Regions from separate parts of the Homo sapiens genome. Here region 2 is linked to region 1. Evidence: fine-mapped expression QTL. A gene starts in region 1. The other region holds a variant in brackets. All regions are shown on one strand. Distances are from middle to middle.

Evidence for each region.
Region 2: its variant is fine-mapped to the expression of LAT in whole blood (TOPMed, PIP above 0.99).

Annotation. Positions count from the first base shown.
Region 1 is chr16:28,981,935-28,986,934 of GRCh38, forward strand. It overlaps LAT (linker for activation of T cells), which reads left to right and starts at 3,118. Exons shown (of 12, transcript NM_001014987.2): 1 at 3,118-3,583; 2 at 3,779-3,806; 3 at 3,920-3,954; 4 at 4,201-4,282; 5 at 4,448-4,512; 6 at 4,606-4,635; 7 at 4,723-4,780; 8 at 4,865-4,959. The coding sequence starts at 3,484. It overlaps SPNS1 (SPNS lysolipid transporter 1, lysophospholipid), which reads left to right. Exons shown (of 12, transcript NM_032038.3): 7 at 1-122; 8 at 422-611; 9 at 923-988; 10 at 1,258-1,356; 11 at 1,852-2,023; 12 at 2,271-2,609. The coding sequence ends at 2,365. RefSeq lists silencers at 2,879-3,158, 3,179-3,238.
Region 2 is chr16:29,002,698-29,008,215 of GRCh38, forward strand. No RefSeq gene overlaps it. Among named protein-coding and RNA genes, the nearest start is that of LAT, 20 kb to the left of the region's middle. The variant C/T (reference allele first, on the strand shown) is at 2,372.

The DNA of each region.
Region 1 (5,000 bases):
GCTGTGGCCTTTGTCACGGGCTCCCTGGCTCTGTGGGCTCCGGCATTCCTGCTGCGTTCCCGCGTGGTCCTTGGGGAGACCCCACCCTGCCTTCCCGGAGACTCCTGCTCTTCCTCTGACAGGTGCCCAGATGGGGCTATGCTGGGGGGCCTGCGGGTGGCAGGGCTGGAGTGAAGAGCATCTGTGGCTCAGACCCAGGCAGGGAGTTTGACTCCTGACTTCACAAGCTGCCTGCTCTCCTGGAATCTCCGTTTCCTGGTCTGGGAAATAAGTGATGGGATGATGTCTGCCACTCAGGGCTGTGCCAACCATGGGGTGCTGTGTCTGTAGGGACCTTGGTTGTGAGGGTGGCTAGGATGGACAGCGTAGGGGCCTTGGCAGGCACAGGGACAAACCCCCCATTCCCTTCCCTCACCCCTAGTCTCATCTTTGGACTCATCACCTGCCTGACCGGAGTCCTGGGTGTGGGCCTGGGTGTGGAGATCAGCCGCCGGCTCCGCCACTCCAACCCCCGGGCTGATCCCCTGGTCTGTGCCACTGGCCTCCTGGGCTCTGCACCCTTCCTCTTCCTGTCCCTTGCCTGCGCCCGTGGTAGCATCGTGGCCACTTATGTGAGTAGCCAGCAGGTGTCAAGGGGGATGGCGTGGGTCCAGGGTGGAGGAGCAGTCAGCGTAATGGCCACTCGAGGTGGAATGCCTGGTTTTGAATCACAGCTCTGGCTCTTCCCAGCTGTGTGACATTGGACAAGTGACTTAACCTCTCTGTGCTCAGTTTCATCATGTGTAAAATGGGGATATTAGTAGCACCTGTCTCACTGGGGTGTGATGAGGATTAAATTAGTTAATAGATGAGCTGGGAACATGGTCAACTTTCCATGTGTTAGCCCTTACTGTCATGAACCCCCGACCCTCTCTTCCCCCAGATTTTCATCTTCATTGGAGAGACCCTCCTGTCCATGAACTGGGCCATCGTGGCCGACATTCTGCTGGTGAGTTGCTGGGCAGCTCCAGGGTCAGCGCAGAGGCTGATGAGAGCAGAGTTGGGGTCAGGAGTGTTGCCTCTACCCCTCAAAGCCCAGCCTCAACCTACCTTCTGCAATAAATAACATCTGTAGCAGACCCCCGGCCTGCCCTGCGACCTCAACCCCAGGCACACCTCTGACCCCGGCCTAGGCGGATCCTTGGTGGTCTCCTGGCCCCCTGCCTCCTGCCCCCTGGAGCCCAGAGCATCCACTGAGCTCCACCAACTCCTCCACAGTACGTGGTGATCCCTACCCGACGCTCCACCGCCGAGGCCTTCCAGATCGTGCTGTCCCACCTGCTGGGTGATGCTGGGAGCCCCTACCTCATTGGCCTGGTGAGCATTATTTCTTGGCTGGCATGGGGTGGCTGGTGTCCTGAGCCTGGGCTGGATCAGAAGGCCTGGCCCTAGTGAAGTGTCTGTGTCCTGCGTGCTGGGCACTTCTCACCTTCCATTGTCAACTGGAGGAGAAAGATTTTGTCTTTGAATATTTCTACCAGTAAGGCCAGGGACCTCACCCTGGTGGTCCAAACTCCTCCTTTCTTTTCTCTTTTCTTTTCTTCCTGAGACAAGACCTCACTCTGTTGCCCAGGCTGCAGTGTAGTGGCACGATCATGGCTCACTGCAGCCTCGACCTCCTGGGCTCAAGCGATCCTCCCACCTCAGCCTCCTGAGTAGCTGGGATGATAGGCATGAGCCACTGCATCTAGCTCAAACCTCCTTCCCTTTCCTGGGCTCCACTTGTCTTTCTCCCTGGAGCTCAGGGGCGTGCCCTCCCTGGTTCATCCATGAGGCTGACTCCCCTGGCTTTCCTGTCTCCTCTCCCTGCAGATCTCTGACCGCCTGCGCCGGAACTGGCCCCCCTCCTTCTTGTCCGAGTTCCGGGCTCTGCAGTTCTCGCTCATGCTCTGCGCGTTTGTTGGGGCACTGGGCGGCGCAGCCTTCCTGGGCACCGCCATCTTCATTGAGGCCGACCGCCGGCGGGCACAGCTGCACGTGCAGGGTCAGTTAGGAGCTGTGCCCGGCCCAGCTTCTTGATCTGCCTGTCTGTCTGTCCATCTGTCTGCCCACTCCTGTGCACCTGGCAGCTCAGTCCACAGCCCTCCCCTTGTTTGGCCTCCAGTCTGTCTGCATCCACCCCTGGGGTGGCTCTGTGGCTGCCCCATCCATTTCCCGCTGCCTGTTTGCCCTTCTCTGGCTTTGTCTGTCTGTCCATCCAGCTCACCCTGGCTCTGACCCTCCCCCCTCAGGCCTGCTGCACGAAGCAGGGTCCACAGACGACCGGATTGTGGTGCCCCAGCGGGGCCGCTCCACCCGCGTGCCCGTGGCCAGTGTGCTCATCTGAGAGGCTGCCGCTCACCTACCTGCACATCTGCCACAGCTGGCCCTGGGCCCACCCCACGAAGGGCCTGGGCCTAACCCCTTGGCCTGGCCCAGCTTCCAGAGGGACCCTGGGCCGTGTGCCAGCTCCCAGACACTACCTGGGTAGCTCAGGGGAGGAGGTGGGGGTCCAGGAGGGGGATCCCTCTCCACAGGGGCAGCCCCAAGGGCTCGGTGCTATTTGTAACGGAATAAAATTTGTAGCCAGACCCCAGGTGCCTGCTCTCGTCTTTCTCTGGGTGGCCTCTGATCTTGCACCCCGTCTTCACCCCAGGGCTCCTGAAGACTGTGGGTCATTCCTCAGGGCTCTGGGTGAGTCTCTGCCCTTCTGGGCTGGGCGACTGAGATGGGGGACTGCTCTTCTCCGAGTGAGCTGGCTGAGTGTGACCGTGAGTCACGCCCCTGCTTCCCTGGAGCCTGTCCCTTGCCTCACAGGCCTGGCTGAGGTGGGGGTGGGCACTGCCCTTTGTACCCCAGAATTCCCACTGTCAGGGCCTCCCTGCTCGCTGCCTCCCCGGGTCCTGGATATGGAGGCCACGGCTGCCAGCTGGCAGGTGGCTGTCCCCGTCTTGGGGGGGGCCAGCAGACCCTTGGTGAGTGCCTGGGGTGGCTCCCGGGCCTCCTCCTGCCCCCTCCCCACTGGCGGGTGGGGTGGGAAGGGGGCGGGTGCAGCCGGCTGAGAGCTTGATGATTTCCTGCCCTCGCCCGGCGCTCACCACAGCTTCCTGCCGCAGGCGGGCGGGAGGGCGGGCACGGAGAGGCGGGCGCCGAGGAGGGGCAGGTAGGGCTGGGACGCAGGGGTAACTGGATCCCCCGACTTCAGCCCAGGCCCTGGTCTGACCACCCTGGGAGCAGGGACTTTCCACAGTCAGCTGGACGCACACTCAGCCCAGTAAAAGAGGGGACCCATCCCGGGAGCCCCGGGGAGGGCACAGCTGCCTCCTCCCGGGCTCCCCTGCCACCTGGTGCCTACCTGCCCCCTGCTCCCTGCCGGGTCCGGTCCTCACCCCATCTTCATCTGGCCTTGACTCTGCCCTTGAGGGGCCTAGGGGTGCAGCCAGCCTGCTCCGAGCTCCCCTGCAGATGGAGGAGGCCATCCTGGTCCCCTGCGTGCTGGGGCTCCTGCTGCTGCCCATCCTGGCCATGTTGATGGCACTGTGTGTGCACTGCCACAGACTGCCAGGTGAGTGGGAAACTGGTGGGGGTACCCAGGGCCCAGGGACACCGACGGGATCCTCATCCACTCCCAGCCCCTGTGTCTGTCCTGGCTCTGTCCCTGCCTCCGTCCTGATCCCAGCGCCTCTGAGAGTCCCTGGATCCCAGCACCTTCTGCCCTAAGCACCCCCTGTTCCTGCCTCACCAGCCCTCTCTTTCCCAGGCTCCTACGACAGCACATCCTCAGATAGGTGAGTCCGCCCCAGCCGCCCTGGGTCTCCCTCCACACCCCATGGCGGGGCAGGGCTGGGGCTTCCATCCTCCATCTTCCAGCCCCATCCCCAAGCTGTGTCTCCTTTACCAGTTTGTATCCAAGGGGCATCCAGTTCAAACGGCCTCGTGAGTACAAGGAGGGTCCCCTACCTTGGGTGCCAGGGAGAGGGTCCCCTGGTGTGGGAGTGAGCGTGAACCTTCAGACTTCCCCTGCCACCTTGGGGCTGCCCACATGGCCTTGACCTGAGCTGGGAGAGGGGAGATGGCTCCCCCAGGCCTGTCCAGGGTGTGGGGCTTTCAGGGGCTTAGTCTGTTCTTTGAGGCCTTGACGATGTCCGGAGTCCTTCTTTCAACTTGGTTCTGTGTCCTCAGACACGGTTGCCCCCTGGCCACCTGCCTACCCACCTGTCACCTCCTACCCACCCCTGAGCCAGCCAGACCTGCTCCCCATCCCGTGAGTAGCTGCTCAGCCCCTGCCCCTCCAAAGCTCAGCCCCTCCCCCTCCAAACTCCACTCTCTACCCCTTCACTTTTTTGGATTGGGGGCCCCTTTCCCTTTTGCAACTGCTGTTGCCCCCTGAGCCCCACCTCAGGCATGACCCCTGACCTTTGACTCCCAGAAGATCCCCGCAGCCCCTTGGGGGCTCCCACCGGACGCCATCTTCCCGGCGGGATTCTGATGGTGGTAAGTGTGGGGAAGGGTTCAGGCGGCGGGGGCTGGGAAGAAGATAGGCCTGGCCTGAGCTGACTTAGTCTCCCTCTCACCCTCTCTTTGAAGCCAACAGTGTGGCGAGCTACGAGAACGAGGGTGCGTCTGGGATCCGAGGTGCCCAGGCTGGGTGGGGAGTCTGGGGTCCGTCCTGGACTAGGCTGACCCCTGTGTCGTTACCCCCAGAACCAGCCTGTGAGGATGCGGATGAGGATGAGGACGACTATCACAACCCAGGCTACCTGTGAGTGGCCAGGTGGGAGGTGGGAGGTGAGGGCTGAGGCTGTGCGTCCCCCCTTGCTCACCGGCCCTTTTCACTTCCTTTCAGGGTGGTGCTTCCTGACAGCACCCCGGCCACTAGCACTGCTGCCCCATCAGCTCCTGCACTCAGCACCCCTGGCATCCGAGACAGTGCCTTCTCCAGTGAGTCAGGCATTTGTTTTTATTTTTAAATTTTTTTAGGG
Region 2 (5,518 bases), 21 kb after region 1:
GACTAATTTGAATTATAAAAACAGAATCAGGCTGGGCGCTGTGGCTCACGCCTGTAATCACAGCACTTTGGGAGGCTGAGACAGGAGGATCGCCTGAGGCCAGGAGTTTGAGACCAGCCTGGGTAACATAGTGAGACCCCATCTATACAAAAAAATACAAAAATTAGCTGGGCATGGTGGTGGGCGCCTGTAATCCCATCTACTTGGGAGGCTGAGGCATGAGAATCAGTTGACCCCGGGAGGCAGAGGTTGCAATGAGCCGAGATTGCACCACTGCACTCCAGCCTGGGTTATGGAGCGAGACTCAGTCTCAGAAAAAAAAAAAAAAAAAAAAAAACAGAGAATCACGGCCCCTCAGTCAATTTCCAGACTTGAGCCAGTTTACAGACCCAGAACCCCTTGAATGAGGGGAGGCCGTGTCCGCTTGAGGAAGGACCCCACTACACTACCGACAATTTATGCCATTTATCTTTCTCCCACCCTTCCGTAGAGAGACCTCTGAGCTCTTACCGGGATAACTGATCTTTCAGGGACTACTGGACACTGGCTCTGAGCTGATGTTGATTCCAGGGGTCCCTGAACATCACTGTGGACCTGCAGTTAAAGTAGGGGCTAATGGAGGTCAGGTAATTAATGGAGTTTTAGCTCAGGTCTGAATACAGTGGGTCCAGGGATCCCTGGACTCATCCTGTGGTCATTTTCCCAGTGCCAGAATGCATAATTTGCACAGACATTATACTTAGCATACTTGCCATACTTAGCAGCTGGCAGAATCACCACACTGGCTCTCTGACTGGTAAGGTAAGTACTATTATGGTGAGAAAGGCCAAAGGGAAGCCATTAGAGCTGCCTCTACCTAGAAAAACTGTAAATCAAAAACAATATCACATCCCTGGAGGGACTGCAGAGATTAGTGCCACCATCAAGGACTTGAAAGATGCAGGGGTGGTGATTCCCACCACATCCCCGTTCAACTCTTCCATTTGGCCTGTGCAGAAGACAGATGGATCTTGGAGAATGACAGTGGATCATCGTAAGCTTAAGCAAGTGGTCACTCCAGTTGCAGCTGCTGTACCAGATGTGGTTTCACTGCTTGAGCAAATTAACACATCTCCTGGTACCTGGTATGCCGCCATTGATTTGGCAAATGCCTTTTTCCCCATTCCTGTCCATAAGGCCCACCAGAAGCAATTTGCCTTCAGCTGGCAAGGCCAGCAATATACCTTTACTGTCATACATCAGGGGTTATCAACTCTCTGGCTTTGTGTCATAGTCTTATTTGGAGAGACCTTGATCGCTTTTCCCTTCCACATTATATCACACTGCTCCATTATATTGATGACATTACATTGATTGGATCTAGTGAGCAAGAAGTAGCAAACACACTGAATTTATTGGTGAGAATTTGTGTGCCAGGGGATGGAAAATAAATCTGACTAAAATTCACGGACCTTCTACCTCAGTAAAATGTCTAGGGGTTCAGTGGTGTGGGGCCTGTCGAGATATTCCTTCTAAGGTGAAGGATAAGTTGCTGCATTTGGCCCCTCCTACAATCAAGAAAGAGGCGCAATGCCTAGTTGGCCTATTTGGATTTTGGAGGCAACACATTCCTCATCTGGGTGCGTTACTCTGGCCCATTTATCAAGTGACTTGAAAGGCTGCCAGTTTTGAGTGAGGTCCAGAACAGGAGAAGGCTCTGCAACAGGTCCAGGTTGCTGTGCAAGCTGCTCTGCCACTTGGGCCATATGACCCAGCAGATCCAATGGTGCTTGAGGTGTCAGTGGCAGATAGGGATGCTGTTTGGATCCTTTGGCAGACCCCCATAGGTGAATCACAGCAGAGGCCTCTAGGATTTTGGAGCAAGGCCCCGCCATCTTCTGCAGATAACTACTCTCCTTTTGAGAGACAGCTCTTGGCCTGTTAAAGAGCTCTGGTGGAAACTGAATGTTTGACTATGGGTCATCAATTCACTATGCAGCCTGAACCGCCTGTCATGAACTGGGTGTTTTCTGACTCATCTAGCCATAAAATGGGTCGTGCACAGCAGCATTGTATCATCAAATGGAAGTGGGATTTACGTGATCGGGCTCAAGCAGGTCCTGAAGGCACAAGTAAGTTACATGGGGAAGTGGCTCAAATGCCCATGGTCTCCACTCTTGCCACCCTGCCTTCCCTTCCCCAGCCTGCACTGATGGCCTCATGAGTTCCCTATGATCAGTTGACAGAGGAAGAGAAGACTAGGGCCTGGTTCACAGATGGTTCTGCATGATATGCAGGCACCACTCGAAAGTGGAGAGCTGCAACACTCTAGCCCCTTTCGAGGACATCCTTGGAGGACAGCGGTGAAGGGAAATCTTCCCAGTGGGCAGAA[C/T]TTTGAGCAGTGCACGTGGTTGTGCACTTTTCATGGCAGGAGAAATGGCCAGATGTGTAATTATATACTGATTCATGGGCTGTAGCCAGTGGTTTGACTGGATGGTCAGGGACTTGGAAGAAGCATGATTAGAAAGTTGGTAATAAAGAAATTTGGGGAAGAGGTATGTGGATAGACCTCTCTGAGGGGTCAAAAACTGTGAAGATATTTGTAACCCTCCTGCTCAGCAGAGGAGGATTTTAATAATCAGGTGAATAGGATGACTTGTTCTGTGGATACCACTCAGCGTCTTTCCCAAGCCACCCCTGTCATCTCCCAACGGGCGCATAAACAAAATGACCATGGTGGCAGGGATGGAGGTTACGCATGGGCTCAGCAACATGGACTTCCACTCCCCAAGACTGACCTGGCTACGGCCACTGCCCAGTGCCCAATTTGCCAGCAGCAGAGACCAACACTGAGCCCTTGATCGGCACCATTCCTTGGGGTGACCAGTCAGCTACTTGGTGGCAGGTTGATTATATTGGGGTTCTTCCATCATGGAAAAGGCAGAGGTTTGTCTTCACTGGAATAGACACTTACTCTGGATATTGGTTTGCCTGTCCTGCATGTGATGCTTCTGCTAAGACTACCATCTGTGGACTCATGGAATGCCTCATCCACCATCATGGTATTCCACACAGCATTGCCTCAGACCAAGGCACTCACTTTATGGCTAAAGAATTCCAGTGGTTAGCTCCTGCTCATGGAATTCACTGGTCTTACCATGTTCCCCATTATCCTGAAGTAGCTGGATTGATAGAACGGTGGAATGGCCTTTGAAGTCACAATTACAATGCCAACTAAGTGACAATACTTTGCAGGGCTGGGGCAAATTTCTCCAGAAGGCCACATATGCTCTGAATCAGCATCCAATACATGGTACTCTTTCTCCCATCGCCAGGATTCACCAGTCCAGGAATCCAGGGGTGGAAGTGGAAGTGGCACCACTCACCATCAACCCTAGTGATCCACGAGCAACATTTTTGCTTCCTGTTCCCACGACATTATGTTCTGCTGGCCTAGAGGTCTTAGTTCCAGAGGGAGGAACACTGCCACCAGGAGACACAACGATTCCATTAAACTGAAAGTTAAGATTGCCACCCGGACACTTCAGGCTTCTCCTACCTTTGAGTTAACATGCTAAGAAGAAGGGAGTTACAATGTTGGCTGGGGTGATTGACTGGACTATCAAGATGAAATCAGTCTACTACTCCACAATAGAGGTAAGGAAGAGTATGCATGGAATACAGGAGATCCCGTAGGGCGTCTCTTAATAGTACCATGATCTGTGATTAAATTCAGTGGGAAACTACAATAGCCCAATTCAGGCAGGACTACAAATAGTCCAGACCCTTCAGGAATGAAGGTTTGGGTCACTCCACCAGGTAAAAAAAACCGCAACCTGCTGAGGTACTTGTGAAAGACAAAGGGAATACAGAATGGGTAGTAGAAGAAGGTAGTCATCAATACCAGCTATGACCACATGACCAGTTGCAGAAACGAGGACTGTAACTGTCATGAGTATTTCCTCGTTATTTTGTTGAGAATATGTTTGTGCATGTACACACTAAGAAAATATCTTCATTTTATTTCCTTTATCATGTGACATAAGATTTATTGACCTCATATCAGCATTTATGTGCTGTTAACTTTACGTAATAGCATTTAGGTTAAGGATTGGTGTGCTTCCGGTTGTATGAAGGATAGCTGTATTATGTTAGGTGTAATTATAAACTTTGTTTTTTTGGAGACAGAGCCTCGTTCTATCCCCCAGGCTGGAGTGCAGTGGTGTGATCTCGGCTCACTGCAACCTCTGCCTTCTGGGTTCAAGCCATTCTCCTGCCTCAGCCTCCCGAGTGGCTGGGATTACAGGCACACACCACCATGCCCAGGAAATTTTTGTATTTTTAGTAGAGACGGGATTTTGCCATGTTGGCCAGGCTGGTCTAGAACTCCTGACCTCAGGTGATCTGCCCGCCTCAACCTCCCAAAGTGCTGGGATTACAGGCCTGAGCCACTGCGCCCAGCCTATTATTGTCTTTATTTGAAAATTATGTATGATTTCAGGAGATGTATATGGGTTCAAATTGACAAGGGGTGGACTTGTGATAGTTAATATTGAGTGTCACCTTGATTGGATCGAAGGATGCAAAGTATTGATCCTGGGTGTGTCTGTGAAGGTGTTGCCAAAGGAGATTAATATTTGAGTCAGTGGACTGAGAGAGACAGACCCACCCTCAATCTGGGTAGGCACCATCTAATTAGCTGCCAGTGTGGCTAGGATAAAGTAGGCAGGGCTGGGTGCATGCCTGCAATCCCAGCACTTTGGGAGGCCGAGGCGGGTGGGATCACCTGAGGTCAGGAGTTCGAGACCAGTCTGGCCAACATGGTGAAACCTGGTCTCTACTAAAAATACAAAAATCAGCCAGGTGTGGTGGTGGGTGCCTGCAATCCCAGCTACTCGGGAGGCTGAGGCAGGATAATCGCTTGAACCTGGGAGGCGGAGCCTAGATGGCATCATTGCACTCCAGCCTGGGTGACAGAGCGAGACTCTGTCTCAAAATAAATAAATAAATAAAAGCAGGCAGAAGAAGTTGGAAAGAGCAGACTTGCTGAGTCTTTTGGCCTTCATCTTTCCCCTGTGCTTCCTGCCCCCAAATATTGAACTCCAAGTTCTTCAGCTTTTGGACTCTTGGACTTACACCAGTAGTTTGCCAGGGGTTCTTGGGCCTTCAGCCACAGACTGAAGGCTGCACTGTCAGCTTCCCTAATTTTGAGGTTTTGGGGCTTGGACTGGCTTCCCAGCTCCTCAGCTTGCAGATGGCCTATTGTGGGACTTCACTTGTTATCGTGTGAGTCAATTCTCCTAATAAATTCCCCTTCAAATATTTATCTATCCTATTAGTCCTGTCTCACTAGTGAACGCTAATACAGAGGTCCTGGATCCACTTGTTCCTGAAGCTGGATCCACCCATGAACTGTTCAGCTGCAGGAGTTAATAAGCACGCCTCTTTGGCTTGGCTCAGCTTCATCTGGGTTTCTGTCATTTGCAGATGAAAGCATCCTGACTCATCTAGACAGGATGCTGTGGGAGCACCAGCCTTC